Regions from separate parts of the Homo sapiens genome. Here region 1 is linked to region 2. Evidence: fine-mapped expression QTL. Tissue or cell type: whole blood. Region 2 holds a variant in brackets; the other region holds the start of a gene. All regions are shown on one strand. Distances are from middle to middle.

Region 1 (8,107 bases), 110 kb after region 2:
GGTGTGAACCCGGGAGGCGGAGCTTGCAGTGAGCAGAGATTGTGCCACTGCACTCCAGCCTGCGCGACAGACCGAGACTCCGTCTCAAAAAAAAAAGAGTAATCTGTCTGCTAATGCCTAATTTCATAAATTAGGTACAGTTTTGTATTTTTTTGGAGACTGAGTCTCGCTCTGTCACCCAGGCTGGAGTGTAGTGGCCCAATCTTGGCTCACTGCAACCTCCGCCTCCCGGGTTCAAGCAATTCTCCTACCTCAGCCTCCTGAGTAGCTGAGATTACAGGTGCCTGTCACCATGCCGGGCTAATTTTTTTGTATTTTTAGTAGAGACGGGGTTTTACCATGTTGGCCAGGCTGGTTTCAAACTCCTGACCTCAAGTGATCTGCCCGCCTCGGCCTCCCTAAGTGCTAGGATTATAGGCGTGAGCCACCACACCCGGCCAGGAACAGTTTAATACCTTTCCCTACCCCACTCCCCACTGAAAAAACCACAAGGGCATAATCTCAAAATGAAGTCCTTTCAATCAGTGGTCCCCAACATTTTTGGCACCAGGGACCAGTTTCAAGGAAGAAAATTTTCCTTGGTTTTGGGATGATTCAAGTGCATTACCTTTATTACACACTTTATTTCTAGTATTATTACACTGTATAATATATAATGAAATAATTACACAACTCACCATAATGTAGAATCAGTGGGAGTAACAGTCTGTGGCCTCAGGGTTGGGGATCCCTGCTTTAAGAGGAATTTAGACTAATGTGAACTATTAACTTGTACTTACTTTTCTTATTTCTTGTACATTGGAGAGCCACAGGGCTAACTGACCTAAAACTATTTCATGTAATACTGATTCTTTGACTTGGCCAACAGCGATTTCATGTTAAAAACAAACAAAATATTGATGCATTTACAGTATGCAAAGGGTGTCTTTGGTTAAAAAACAACAAAAAACCGGAGGCTTTGTACTTCCCAGTTTGGATTCAAGGCAAATGCTCGTCAATCCTCACTGACTCCCTGTTTCACTCTGGTGCACAAACTTATCACCATTATTCTCCCCTTGAACAAGCTGGAGCTTGCCTGTGATTTGAAATCTACACAGCTGCGGCTGAAAATATCCTCCTGATGTATTCTTTCTTAAAAACTAGAAAAGATGGTGCCAGCGGTGCAAAACTAGTATGAGTGAACATGCATTTAAATTTCACATTTTATTTATAGGTGAAATTTGAATGATTTCAATCATTAATCTATAGATTTTCTTTTCCTGTTTTGACAAATATAAACCATGATTTTTAAAAAATTCAAATAAGAATGTTTTTAGCTGGGTGTTAATTTAGCTGGTCAAAGAAAATATTCAGCGAATAATTTGGCTCCTTCACAAGGAAAAATGAGGTGATTTGGTCATCTGAAATTCTTAAACTGTCAGTAACAGTGAAAAATATAATATTCTGCTTTTTATATAGTTCTAAGGAATTATTTATCTTTATAAAAACATCCATATTCATTCGGATTATTGTCAATACTTGCCAGGAATAACCTGTGTCTTTACTACCAAAATGAACATATTGTTATGATTATCAACTAATAAGAGAGGTGTTGAAACACTTTGTAATAACAAGATTTTCTTAATAGTTACAACGGTAAATCAAAATATTTATTGCCTAGTACATATCAAGAAGTTTTTCAAAGTGGATGTACACACTCAATTCTCTATACGGAGATCTCATTTTAATCAGAGCCATCAACCTTATTCCTTGTTGCACAAGATACTGTGTGTTTGTGCATACGTGGGAGTGTGTGTAAACTGCTTACTTCATTTTAGATAAAGTACAAGCTCATGTAAATATATGGTTTTCAGTAAGGCCTTACTAAGGCTATCTGAAAATCCAGAGTTCATAGATGCCTAGATAATCGCCTTACAGTGTCGTTATACACAGCTTCTACAATTGTGAGGCAAAACTAGACAATGTGCATGCAGGCGATGAGACAGACGTATAATAAGCACTTAAACTCATCTTTGGCTACAACGGCCAGAGGTAGCTCCATATCTGCTGTCTTCTTCCCACAGCCACTTCATGACAGCGGATCCCAGATTCATGATTTGATTCCAGATCTTGAGCAAGAGCCGTGTGTAATGCATTACTGGCACTTAATTAACTTTGCAAAGGTAGCAGGAATAACTAAACTGAGTTGTTAAAGCTATTACCATTTACGAAAATCAGTCATGCTGCATCATAAACAGATTTTTCGAGATCCACTTAGAAAATCGAGCTTTTCCAAGGACCAATTTCTATGTCAAACTGAATTATAAACTATACACTGGTTAGTGTTTTCTTTACAATGAAAAAAATTAACATTTAGACTTCTAATTAAAAATTCAACCAAACTAAGAAAAAAAACCTGCTTATTGCCTTCCATATACAAAGCACTGTATCAGTCTAAGGTGGAACACCACACCCTAAAAAGGTGAGCTCATCCTGCAAGTCAAGAAAAATAAAAATGGCATTGTGCATGTTTCACAAGAGGGCTGTGGTCACAGCCAGAGCCCTGCAGGTCAAATCATGTCCCGTCAGTAGCACTGATCATAGTTCTGCCAATATCCCCGCCACCAGTCAAAGGCACGCTAGTCTTACTTTATATGTGGAGGATTACTGCATATACTTTGGGTCTGCATTAGTCTTTGGAGTAGGGTATAATTATCAAAGTATGTTTAAAAACACACACGCAGATCTGTTAGGTCCCCTAGAAGAGACTGAGTTCAGATGCATTTTAACTAGAAGATAGAGGTACATTATTTCAAAAAACAATTAATTCGCTTTAAAAACCTAAAACACTGGAGATGATACAAACCTGAGCTGGCACAGTGTATGGGTTTTCAGAGAAGAAAACACACAAACTGCAAAGAAAGCTGGAATTTTCTGCAGTGTTTACATTTTATTACCTGGCTAATGGGGACCATGCTTCCTTTTGTGGGGAAGTGACGTCCAAAGGATTACACAAAAGAAAGGGCACCAAGTTGCTGATATAGTCCCCCGGAAACACAAATAAACAGGATTGGGTTGGAAGCCCTGGGCCACTTCAAAGAAAAAAATCAAGTCAATGGTAATAGTAAGAAATGAAAACAGGCAGGGTAGCTTGCTGTCTGTGTTTAAAACTATTAAACCCGGTAGGTAAAGCCCATTTGGCTTTAAGGTTTTATTAGGCTCTCACAGACCCCATCTCCACCCCCACACACATTGCTAATCACAGTAGACCCCAGCTGTGATTCCCATCCACCCCCAGGAAAGGAGAGGGGGCTTCCCACTGTGAAAGAAAATGCCTTCTCAGACAAGAACTATGCTCCAGTCCTGACTTTCAGCAAGGCAAGCAGGGAGCTTCCTCCATGCTGGGAAAATGGCATACAGTACTTCACCTGCTAGGTACATTAAATTTGTCAACTCTGCTTCACGTCGCGAGTGTAGGGAATGTGTTTGCTTTTTAGATTTCAAATCGGATTAAAATAATTAAGTTTTCTAAACAACAATGCCATGCTTAAACCAAAGGACACGCCCTAGAACAAGAGCTAACAAGAACTAGCCTGACCGGTAAAGTAGACTGAAATATCTATTGAAAACGTTAACTGCTAAAACTGCCTGAAAGGGCTTTTTTAAATGAGAAAGTTTTTTCAGCTATATCAAGTTGAACGAATCCACTGATATTAGGGAAGGCACGTTATTTCAATATTTATATTTTAATCATAAGAAGAAACGAGAAGGAAGAGAAATGGGAAGAAATTTCAGGTCTCCAAGAAACTTTGTTCATTATATTTACTCATCTAAACTTGCAATGCTTGAAATAATCTTTCGTACGTAACCGACAAAACCCAGGAAAAAAACTATACAGTTTGAACTACGGCCTTTTTTTTTTTTCTGTTTCTGAGCTTGGTGTTGGCCACCCAAAGCTACTGCTGCTGCATTTGGTTCAGGTCGGATGCATGAGCCCGAGCTCGTCCTAAACAGGCATTCTGAAAAGCACTGGCTCCCCCGACCCTGTGAGGGCCCATCACGCGCGGCGGCTTTTGCAGGCCGCGGCCCCGAGGGCTTCCTGGAGGCGGCGACGGCGGCGGCGGCGGGCACTCACCGTACTCCATGAGGCTCTGACAGCCCTCCTCGTAGGACCCGCTGCCGCCGCCCTCTTGGGAGCATTTCCACCACAGCGAGGACGTCTGGCCGTGGTCGCTAGACTGCAACCAGCCGCGGCCGGCCAGCGCGATGATGTCGAAGGCGATGGCGCTGAGTAGGAGCAGGGGCAGGATCCAGCGGCAGCGCTCGCAGGCCAGGCCGCAGCGGATCATGTTGACGGGCGGCGCGGGGCCGAGCGGAGCGGAGCGGAGCGGGTCGGAGGAGCGCGCGGGACGGGCGACAGCAGAGAGTGGCCTGCGAGCGCGGGCGCCGCCACAAAAGCGAAGAGGCCGCGGGGAGGCGGCTCCCGAGGACGCCGCTCCGGGCGGCCCCACCTAGATTCCGGTGACTCAGAGCGCGCCCGCCCCGACCTGCCCTGCCGGGCCGGGGCGGGCGGGGCCGCTGGTAAACAGGCTGGGTTCTGGTGACACCGGGCGGCGGCGGAAGGCGGCCCGAGGGTCCCGCGCGTCCCACAACCCTCCAGTCCCGCTCTCCTGGCCTCTCCAGGCGCGTGTTTTGTCTTCCTGGCGCACCAACATATACACTTGTTTATCTGCACAGCGCCAGCCTAATATCTGACCCCTGATGTCGCATCGTGGGGCGGTGGTCAGCAGTGCCATATCTGAGTTTTCAGCAGTGTGAGATGGGTGTTCTAATTGCACCTGTGGATAAAGGCTGCACTCCTTTGGACGCGTGCACCCAAACCCAGAAGCCCGTCCCTGACCCCTGCTGACACAGGTGATCCCTTCCTCCTAGGCTCCGCCTTTGCACCTTGGACCGTGGCTCCCCGGGTACTCTTATCTCTTTGCATGCTGTTCTTTCCTGCTGGGTTGCCAGATTTTGGAAAGCGGAGGCGATGCTGAATTTATCTGTGTATCCTTAGTGTCCGGCACCGTGTTTGGATCTCAAGGGGAGCTCAGTGAATTTGATGAATGAACATGTAATTTAACAAATGCTCGCTTCCTTTCGGAAAGGCTTCATCTGGCTTCCCCAGATAATTTCATGTCGCCTCTGCTGCAGTCCACTTCCTATCACGAATCTCTACCTATTTAAACTGCACTCTCTCTACTCTTCATTTACTATTTTGAGGTTTTTCCAAATAAAAATCATACGTCAGCATGCAACCTGCATTTAGGATCCCCCCTTCGGTGTCCTGGGCTAGCTCCCGTCGCAGTTCTGACTCCTAAGATGTGACAGGAAGGGTGGGGTGGCAGCCAGGTGTGCCGCTGAGGACAAAGGAGTTCTCAGTGTCAGGCACCTCGGTGGCCTTGGGAAAATCACTGAAACATCGTATGGGGGTCATGTCTTAACCCTGTACCTCCAAAGATTTCTTCTGAATCCCCTATTTTTTCTGTTAATTTAATATAAAAGTGGGAACTACTTAAAAATATTTTAAATTGTATTCCAATTTGATATTCTCAATAGAAACAGAATACTCTTTTGACTTATGCCATTTTCTGGCAATTCTTGAGGACGAATAAAAGCATGGAGAAAGTATCTGAAAATACATGAAATAATTTCCCTAGCCTTCATTTTACATAATTCAAGTTTTACATAAACCACGTCATATATTTTTATTACAGGAAAATATTTTCACTTTCAAAGAACACAAGAGGGTGTTCTGCCAAAAGTTAATTTTGTATCGTGGAAGCTGTGTGAAGAAAATGGTGATATTTATGTTCTCAGGGTTTTCAAAAGTAATGAAGATATTTGTTTAATTAGCTATGTATAATATATTTGTGAGAAAAAAAAATTCTTATAAGTCAAATACTGACCAGAAGCAAAGTGGCTTCAGACAAAATGAGAGTTTTGCAGGCATCTTAATATCTCTGGATAATTTTGGACTTGATATATATAATTTATTTTCGTTATTCAATGAAACCATTTCCGATGGGCTTGAGGAAAAGAGCTCATTAATGCCGAGGTGAACACAAAGAGATTAGCTCTTCACAATTTCTGGAAGAGACCACATTGACCCTGGTGGGTTTCCAACAATAATATACCCAACATGTGGTACAGACTCTGGAACCGGATGGTTCAGGTTTACACGCTTTCTCATATTCGCTGTGTGACACTGGGCAGGTTAGTTCAGTTTTTTGTGCCTCCATTTCCTCATCTGTAAGACAGACAGTGCTAACCTCAGTGTTTTAATGATTGTTAAAAGAGCAAATTCATCTAAAGTGCTCAAGATAGTTCCTGCATATAGTAAGGGTTGATGATGATGATGATGATTTTTCATATAGGTTTTCCACTTTTGAACATTGAAAGAGGGGAATGTCCATGTTTCTAAAGGGCAAATTCTATAGGTGAATACCAACTGTAAGTGACTAAGTTATTTGAGACAATGCAATCATTCATCCTAGCCATATTCATAAAATGATGGCTCATAGAGAACAGTAGGCAGTTGGATAGTTCCCCCTGCTGGACAATGTAGGGATTGCGCCTGAGCACTGAGCACTTGGCAAAAATGTAAATTGCACCTACAGAAAGTTTTTTTTTAATTGAGGCTTGACTGACATACAAAAAAGTGATATTTAATATATACAACTTGACGAATTTGAAGATAAGTACATACCCATGAAACTATCACCATAAACAAAAAGGTTTTATTTTTCTAATTTGGGGTTATGGTTATAAAACCAATGACTGTTACCAACAAAAATATATAAATAAATAATTTTAAAAATAAAAATTGGTAGAAAGTAATAGTAATAATAATAATAGCAGCTAACAAACATCTGCTGGAGTTTACTATGTCCCAGTGGGTGTTTCACATCTACCTTATGAGGCATGTACCAGCATCTCCTTCATTTACACAAGGGACTGAGGCACAACGAAGTTAAGTAACTTGCCCAAGACCATGCAGTCACGGAGTGGCAAAGCCAGGCTTCAACCTAGGCAGCCTGACAGCAGAGATAGTGCTATTCATCACAGTAAGCACTCGTAAGAGTTTATGGATGTATCCAAATGTCTCCTTTCTTCCCTTCTTTGGTCCTTGTAAACACCCAAACTACTCCTAGTTATCTCCCAAGCTGCAGTGACATGATCTCCCTGCCACCGTTCTGGGCATCTCTGTAGGACCATTGGGCCTTTGACATGGTTCTCTTGTGGCTGTCCAGTTGAGTCCATGGATGAAGTACCCTCCAGTAGATATGGAGTGATTGAGTTTCCTCTGGATGTGGCAAATGCTCCCACTGTCAACCATTTGGCAAAGATGCAGGGCCTTATTTTTCACATTGAACATTGATGAGATCACGTGATAGGTGTGGACCATTGAGAGTCCTTAATAATAGCATAGCCTGAGTTAGAACCAATAGCCATGATCCAGAAAACCAAGAGTATCTTATGTAAATTAACAGTGACTGTGAATACACAGTAAACGTCAACCCAGGATTCTTCGACCTCACCCACCCAGTCCTGCTCCTCTGACCTGATGAACACCTACTGACCCCTTGACCTCAGCAAAACTTCACTTCCACAGAAAGCCCCCAACTAGATTAAGTTCCCGTTACACATCCTCAAAGCCCTGTATGTCTTTCCTTCAAAACTTTTCTCACAATTTTAATTATATATTTATTCTGAATAATTTGTATCCACTCCCACTGCAATGTAAATTAGATGTTGACAAAAGTGTCACATGTTACCTCTCACCACTGTGTGCACAGTACCCAGTGCCTGGAACATGATAAAATTCCAAGAAACACTTGTCAAATGAACATGAGAATCTGTCTAGTCTCAAAATAACTCAGAGGGTCTCTGAGCACTCTTCCTTTTAGAGGGTCTTATTTTTAAAACTGTCATCCTTATTCTATCTCAGCATAATATCCTATGATTTTTTCCCCTTGAAATCATTGACAGATAATAAGTCTTCTAACATTAAGCGGAGATCACCTTTCTTTCATTCCTCCATCACTCATCTCTGGCATTTCTTCTCTTTGGCTGGCTGAACATC
Region 2 (8,107 bases):
GTCTGTCCGTTCTCAGACCTCAAACTCCATGCTGGGAGAACCACTACTCTCTTCAAAGCTGTCAGACAGGGACGTTTAAGTGTGCAGAAGTTTCTGCTGCCTTTTGTTCCACTCAGAAGGTTTTTTTGCATGCATGAATAAATGAATGAATGTTCAAGCCCTCACAAGTCCACAACTAAATTCCCATTTCAAATTGATCTCTTAGTCACAAATTCATTCCTAAGCATTTCGTGCCCAAAACTGGGTAGGAAATAAGTGAAAAAGCTGGAGTAAAATAGACATTCTTGGAGAATGACTGTACACAGAATCTTACATATTTCTGAAAATGGAGTTGGCAGCTAAGAGTTTTAAAAGATCCTGAAATTGGCCAGGTGCGGTAGCTCATGTCTATAATCCCAGCACTTTGGGAGGCTGAGGTGGGTGGATCACTCGAGGCCAGGAGTTCGAGACCAACCTGGCTAACATGATTAAACCTTGTGTGTACTAAAAAATACAAAAATTATCTGAGCGTGGTGGCACACACCTTAGTCCCAGCAACTGAAGAGGCTGAGTTACGAGAATTTCTTGGGCCTGGGAGGCAGAGGTTGCAGTGAACTGAGATCATGCCACCACACACTCCAGCCTGGGTGACAGAGTGAGACTCTGCCTCAAAAAGAAAAAAGATACTGAAATTATTGCAGTACAGCTTTATGTAGGTACCTGATGCTAATGCCAGAAATTCTGAAGCTAACTTTGTTCTCTTAAGGTAGTCTCCCCTTGGCAAGTCTAGCTTATATTTTAGTTAAGGTCAAGGATTTCTATGAGTAACACAGATTTCAAATATTCTATCCCAATATCCTCATATTTTTTAGTTAAAGTTCTAAATTTTTGTTTCAGAAATATGGAGTCATAACTATAACACAAATATGAGTTTAAGGATAGATTTTGTTGGAAAGGGAGGTTCAGGGATGGAAAGAACTGGAGGAATTATGCATCACAGATAGAAAAAAGAAATGGAAATCTAGTTTAACAGCTCTGTCTGGTTCAGCAAATATTTATTAATCACCTTCAGTGTGCATAAGGCTGTCATCCTTGAGAGAAGGAAAATGCATACAGCAAGCCCATATTCACCCCTGATTTCTGCTTGGGAGGACTACTAAACTTCTTCCAAGGGAAGTGGCCTAAACAGATATCATTCTTTCCAGGCAGAGGAGACTGAGATCGGGGTCTGTGCTGCTGATGCAGGTGGAATTTGTGGACAGGGTAACAGACAGAAGGGAGCTGGACGGGGAAGGAGCCGCAGAAATATGCATAGGATTTTCTCAAGTCTTTGCCAAATACTAAGCTGTGTTTAGGCACAGTAGACACCTGAAGGCCTAGCAAACAGCTTCATGAAGATTGAGAGGTGAATCCAGATTTTAGAGACTGCACAATGTTAGGAGGCATCGGAATTTCAACAGCCAAAATAAGAAAACCTCATGATCACCCCAGTCATTCAGATGAGTCTCAGAAAGGCCATGGTAGAACTAGGGATCATGCTCTAGAGTAAGGGCTATTCTAGAACTGGCCAAGCAGAGCCAATAATCTAATCTCATCAGGATTAACGCAGTCTACCAAGAAATTATTGCCTTCCCGGACACAAGTAAACAATCTTAAATGGAAAAAATATCCTGACTTTCAATGATGTTGCATTCACAATCTCCAACAAACAATGAAAAACAAATCACTAGACATGTAAAGAAGAAGAAAAATGTGATCCAAAATCAGAAGAAAAAATGGTAAATTGAACATATTTATGTATATATTTTGAGACAGAGTCTTGCTTTGTCACCCAGGTTGGAGTGCGGTGGTACAATCTCAGCTCACCGCAACCTCCACCTCCTGGGTTCAAAAGATTCTCCTGCCTCAGCCTCCCGAGTAGCTCGGATTACAGGTGCATGCCACCACACCCAGCTAATTTTTGTATTTTTGGTAGAGACAGGGTTTCACCATGTTGGCCAGGCTGGTCTTGAACTCCTGACCTCAGGTGATCTGCCCACCTCAGCCTCCCAAACTGCTGGGATTACAGGCCTGAGCCATTGTGCCTGGCCTGGCAGTTAGAGATTTTAAAACAACTTTTATAAACATGTATATGGATCTAGGGAAAAACATAAACACAGTAATAAAGAAAACATTTTTAAAGAAACAAATATGACTTTTAAAGCTAAAAAAACTATAAATAAAATTTAAAATTTACATAAGAGGTTTACAGCAGATTAGATACTGCAGAAGAAAAGACTAGCACACATAAACAGAGAACATGCAGAGAAACCGATAAGTTGGCTTTTCCTCAGAAATAACACAAGCAAGATGAAAATGAAACATCTTTAAAATATAGGAAGGAAAAAGACTGTCTATCTAAAATTTAATATATAGTAAAAATGTTCATCAGAAATTAAAGCCAAATTTAAAAGTTTTAGATAAAATGTGAGAGAATTTATTGTCAATAGACAACAAAAATGGTAAAGGAGGCATTTCAGGTTGAGAGGAAACAGTGCTATGAAAACTCAAACCTGCATGAAGGACTAAAGTTTGCTGAAAATGGTGAGCGTGAGCAAGTATAAGACTTTTTCATGTTTCTTAATTTACTTAAAAGACAATAGATAGTTTAAAGCAAAAAATAATAGCAATGTTTTGTGGGAATTATATGTAGAAATTAAATGTATGACAAAAACCGCTTACAGGATATGTGGGACAAGAGAGAGATTAAAAACATTAATGTCTTTTTTAATGTCAAATATTAAATGGAATTATGCAACTTAAATCTTTTTGCATTATGTATAAAATGATTTAATATTCATCAAAAGTAGACTAGTAAGTTAAGAATGCATATTGTAATTCTTAATGCCACCCACTTTATAAAAAGCATACTTTTAAGTACTCTATTTCTACCATTGGCTTTTTTGCTAATTAAAAAAAGTCAATTGTAGAAATAAAATAGAATGCTTAAAATTATTTTATTGACCAAAAAGAAAGTAGAAAAAAGAAAAAGTAAAAATAGAACTGATGGAAAAAATAGAAAACAAATAGCGTGTACTCAGCCATATCAATAATCACATTAAATGTAAATATAATTAACACTGAAATTAAAAGGCAGACATTGTCAGTGTACATTAAAAAGCAAACCCCAACAGCTTGCTGGGTGAGATTAAAGATGCAAATTAAAAGAAAAAGGATGGGGAAAAAATATGCCAAGAAAGTACTAATTATAAGAACGTTACAGTGGCTATATTAATATCAGACAAAATAAACACCGAGACATATGGCAATATTAGAGACAAAGAAGGATATTTTATAATAATAAAAAGGTCATTATGTATA[C/T]CTAATGACAAAACTTCAAAATATATGAAGCAAAAACTGACAGTACTACAGGGAAAAACAAACCCACAATTATACTTGGTGATCTGAGCCCTCCTTTCTAACTGATAGGAAAAGTTAGTAACATCATTAAGGATATGGAAGATCTGAATAATGCCATCAGACCATTTAACTAACTGATATTTCTAGAATATTTCCTATAAAAAGTCCAGAATAGAGGTTCTTTTCACATGCACATAGAATTATACCAAGATAGACCATATACTGGTCAATAAAATAAGTTTCAACAAATTTAACAGATGTGACATCATACGAAACATATTTTCTGAAAACAAAAAGAATTAAGTTAGAATTTAAAAAAAAAAAAAGATATCTACTAAGTACAATGTGGTATCCTAGACTGATCCTGGAGTAAAGACCTTAGTGGAAAAACTGATAAAATCTGAATCTAGAAATAGCAATATACCAATGTTGATTTTTTTTTAGTATTGACGAATGTAGCATGGTAATGTAAAATGTTATCTCTGGGGAAACTGAGTGACAGGCATACAGAAACTATCAGTTATATTTCTGCAGCTTTTTTGTAAATCTACAACTATTCTAAAATAAAACTTTTTTAAAAACCAGTTTTTTTTCAAATCCCCAAATATTTGGAAAGTAAGCAATACCATTACAAATATCCCATGGCTCAAAGAAAAAAATCGCAAGCGGTATTAGAAAATATTAGAATTAAATGGTAATCACAACATTTTAAAATTTGTGGGATTCAGCTCTTTACTTAGAAGTTTGGGCCTGTAAGTGCTTAATTAGAAAAGAATGAAGGTCTAAAATCAATTATCTACCCTTCTTCAAGCAGCCAAAAATATAAGAACAAATTAAACCCCAAGTAAGTAGAAAGAAGGAAGCAATAAAGAGTGGAAATCAATGAAATAGAAAACAGACAATCAAAAGAGAAACATCAACCAAGTCAGAAATTGTTTCTTTGAAAAGTTAAATAAAATGAATAATCTCCTAGCAATACCATTCAAGAAAAAAAGGAAAATACAAGCCATCAATATGAGGAATGAAAGAGGGAACATAGAGCCTATAGACACTAAAGGACAATAAAGAAATACATAAAGAAATGTATGCCAGTAAATTTGAAACTTTATATAAACAGATTAAATTATTTGACAAATACAAATTAACAAAACTAATACAATAAGAAATAGAAAGTCTGAAGAACCCTATATCTGTTCAGGAAAATTAATTCATAGTTAAAATCTTCCCCACAAAGAAAACTTCAACCTTGGCCGGGCACGGTGGCTCACGCCTGTAATCCCAGCACTTTGGGAGGCTGAGGCAGGCAGACCATGAGGTCAGGAGATAGAGACCATCCTGGCTAACACGGTGAAACCCCGTCTCTACTAAAAATACAAAAAATTAGCCGGGTGTGGTGGCGGGTGCCTGTAGTCCCAGCTACTCGGGAGGCTGAGGCAGGTGAATATCATGAACCTGGGAGGCAGAGTTTGCAGTGAGCCGAGATTGCGCCACTGCACTCCAGCCTGAGCGACAGAGTGAGACTCCGTCTCAAAAAAAAGAATAAGAAAACTTCAACCTCAGGTGAATTTTATCAAACATTTAAGGAAGAAATATTACCAATCATACACAGTCTTTTCAGAATACAGAGGAGAGAACATTTCCCAACTTGCTTTTTGAGACCAGCATGTCTCATAAAACCAGATAAATACATTACAAAAATAGAAAACTTCAGACCAATATCCCTCATAAAAATAAATGCAAAAATCCTTAACAAAATATTAGCAAATTCATAAATACACAGAAATAATAATATATCATGACCAGGTAGGATTTTTCCCCCAGGAATGCCAGGTTGATTTAACAATGGAAAATTAATAGATCAGTGTAATTCACTACTTAACAAAAAAGGGGGGAAGCATATAAACATCTTAATAGTTGCAGAAGAAGCATTTGCCAAATTCAACACCTATTCATCATAAAACACAACACAGCATATTAAAAATATAAGGAAACTTCCTCATTTTGACAAAGATCTAAAACCCTAAAGGTATCATCACAATGACAAAATTCTTAAGTCATGCTGAGATTGGGAAGGCACAATGTCCACTGCGCACCATTTTTATTCAATATTGTACTGGAGGTCTTAGTGCAATGAGGCAAGACCATGAAACAAACAAAGACATAAAGATTAAAAATAAAGGATCAAGGCTTTCTGCACTAAGTAGAGAGGCATCCATACGGTCCTGTTCTAGATTCCCTTCATAACTTAAAGGGAAACTCACACAACGTCCAGAGCCCTTGATGTCATGCAAGTGAAGAAGTATGTCCTCAACTATCTTGCAGCAGTAACTGACTTATTGCACCAACCTTGACTTCCAAATGGAACAGTACATCTACAAAAAGGAAGAGTGATGGCTTCTACATCACAAATCTGAAGAGGACCTGGGAGAAGCATCTGCTGGCATCTCATGCTATTGTTGCCATTGAATACCCTGCCAATGTCAATGTCATATCATATAGGAATGTTGGCCAGCAGGCTGTGCTGAAGTTGCTGCTGCCACTGGAGTCACTCCTATTGCTGGCCACTTCACTCCTGGAAACTTCACTAGCCAGATCTAGGCAGCCTTCCAAGAACTGCATCTTCTGGTGGTTACTGGCCCCAGGGCTGACCACCAGCTGCTGACAGAGTCGTCTTATGTTAACCTGCCTACCAACCATTGCTCTGTGTGACACAGATTCTCCTCTGCACTGTGTGGACATTGCAATCCCATGCAACAACAAGGGCTCTCACTCAGTGGGTCTGATGTGGTGGAGACTGACCCAGGAAGGTCTACACATGAGTGTCACCATCTCCCATAAGCACTCATGGGAGAAGGTCATGCCCGATATTTACTTCTACAGAGATCCTGAGCAGATTGAAAAGGAAGAGGCAGGCTGCTGCTGAAAAAGCTGCGGCCAAGGATGAATTTCAGGGAGAATGGACTGCTGCACCTCATGAGTGCACCGCTACTCAGGCTGACTAGTCTAAAGACGTGCAGGTGCCCTCTGTGCCTATTCAGCAGGTCCCTACTAAGACTGAAGCATTCAGCCTGCCACAGAAGACTGGTCTGCAGCTCTCACTGCTCCGGCTGCTGAATGGGTAGGAACAACCACTGAGTGTTCCTAAGCTGTTCTTCCACAGACTCTTAAGCAAAATAGAAATAAGGTTGATGGAAAATAAACATTAGTTTCTAAATAAATAAATAAGAATGACTCAAAAGAAGACATGATTGTTTATAGAGAAAAATCTCAGTCAATATATTATAAAAAAAACTTAGCTATGTTAGCAAAGTCACAGAATATAAGATGTATATGCAAAATTGAATTGTATGTTTATAGAGTAGCAATGATTGGAAATCAACATTGAAAATATCATAATATAGTGACATCAAAAATATTATCAAAAACTTTAACAAAAGATGTGTAAGACCTCTACACTAAAAATTATAAAACCTTACTGAAGGAAATTAAAGAAGACTGAAATAAATAATAAGACATACCACATCCCTGATTTAGAAGCTTCAATATTGCTATCAGTTCTCCCCAAATTAATCTATAGATTCACTGCCATTTTAATCAAGATCCCAGTAGGCTTAAAAAAAAAAAAAAAAAACAGAAACAAAAACTGATTCTAAAATTTTCACGAGAACACAAATGACCTAGAATTTAGCCAGGAAAACAAAATCTTTTTTAAAAAAATCAAAGTTGGAGGACTAACACTACTTGATTTTGAGACTTACTCTAAAGCTACAGTAATAAAGACAGTGTAGAACTGGCATAAGAAGAGACACATTGAGCAGTCAAAAGAATAGAGAGTTCAGAAACAGACCCACACATACGCAGTCATTTGATTTTCAGCATTGGCCATGAAAAATTCAATGGGGAAAAATGTTGTTTTCATAAAATTGTACTGGAATAACTGTATGTCTATATGGAAAATAAAGAAACTTGACACCTACCTCACAGCATACACAAAAATTAATTTGACAAAGACCATAGACCTAAACATAAAAGCTAAAACTTTAAGCTTCCAGAAGAAAATACAGGGGAAGGGAGGGGAGAGAAGAAGAGGGGATGGGAGGGGTAGGGGAAGGGGAAGGGAATAAGTGCCTTGCCCAGAGAGTGCTGCATACTGAGTTAGGAAAAGATTTCTTAGGATACCATAAAAGAAAAAAGATAAATTGGTTTTCATCAGAATTTAAAACTTCTACTCATCAGAAAATGAATGGGTCAGCCTCAGACTGGGATAAAATTGTGTGTGGGGGCTGGGTTTATATAGCTCTACATATTATAGAATATATATATATATCTTCTTCCACTCAAGAATAAAAAGACAACCCAATTTTTAAATGGCCAAAACACTTGCAATATTTATATGTATCCAAAAAGTACTTGAAAAAGTACTAACATCATTAGTCACTGGTGAAATGCTAAATAAATCACAATGAGATTCGATTTCACACCCATCAACACAATTAAAATTTAAAAATCGACAACATCAAATGTTACTGAGGTTGTGGAGCAACTGGAACTCTTATACATTGCTAATGAGGATATGAAATCATACAACCACTTTGAAAAACTGTCTATTTCCTATGTTACAGATACGCCTACCCTATGGCCTAACAATTCAACTCTAGGTATACATAAACCTAAGAGAAATAAACAATGTATGTCCACAAAAAGCCCTATAGATGAATGTTCATAACAA

Evidence for each region. PIP is the estimated chance that this variant, and not a neighbour inherited with it, causes the effect.
Region 1: it holds the start of PERP, and the variant in region 2 is fine-mapped to the expression of PERP in whole blood (TOPMed, PIP 0.95).

What each region holds. Positions count from the first base shown.
Region 1 is chr6:138,103,013-138,111,119 of GRCh38, forward strand. It overlaps PERP (p53 apoptosis effector related to PMP22), which reads right to left and starts at 4,407. Exons shown (of 3, transcript NM_022121.5): 1 at 4,115-4,407. The coding sequence starts at 4,328. RefSeq lists a silencer at 4,536-4,585.
Region 2 is chr6:137,989,625-137,997,731 of GRCh38, forward strand. It overlaps the pseudogene RPSAP42. Among named protein-coding and RNA genes, the nearest start is that of SIMALR, 48 kb to the left of the region's middle. The variant C/T (reference allele first, on the strand shown) is at 3,340.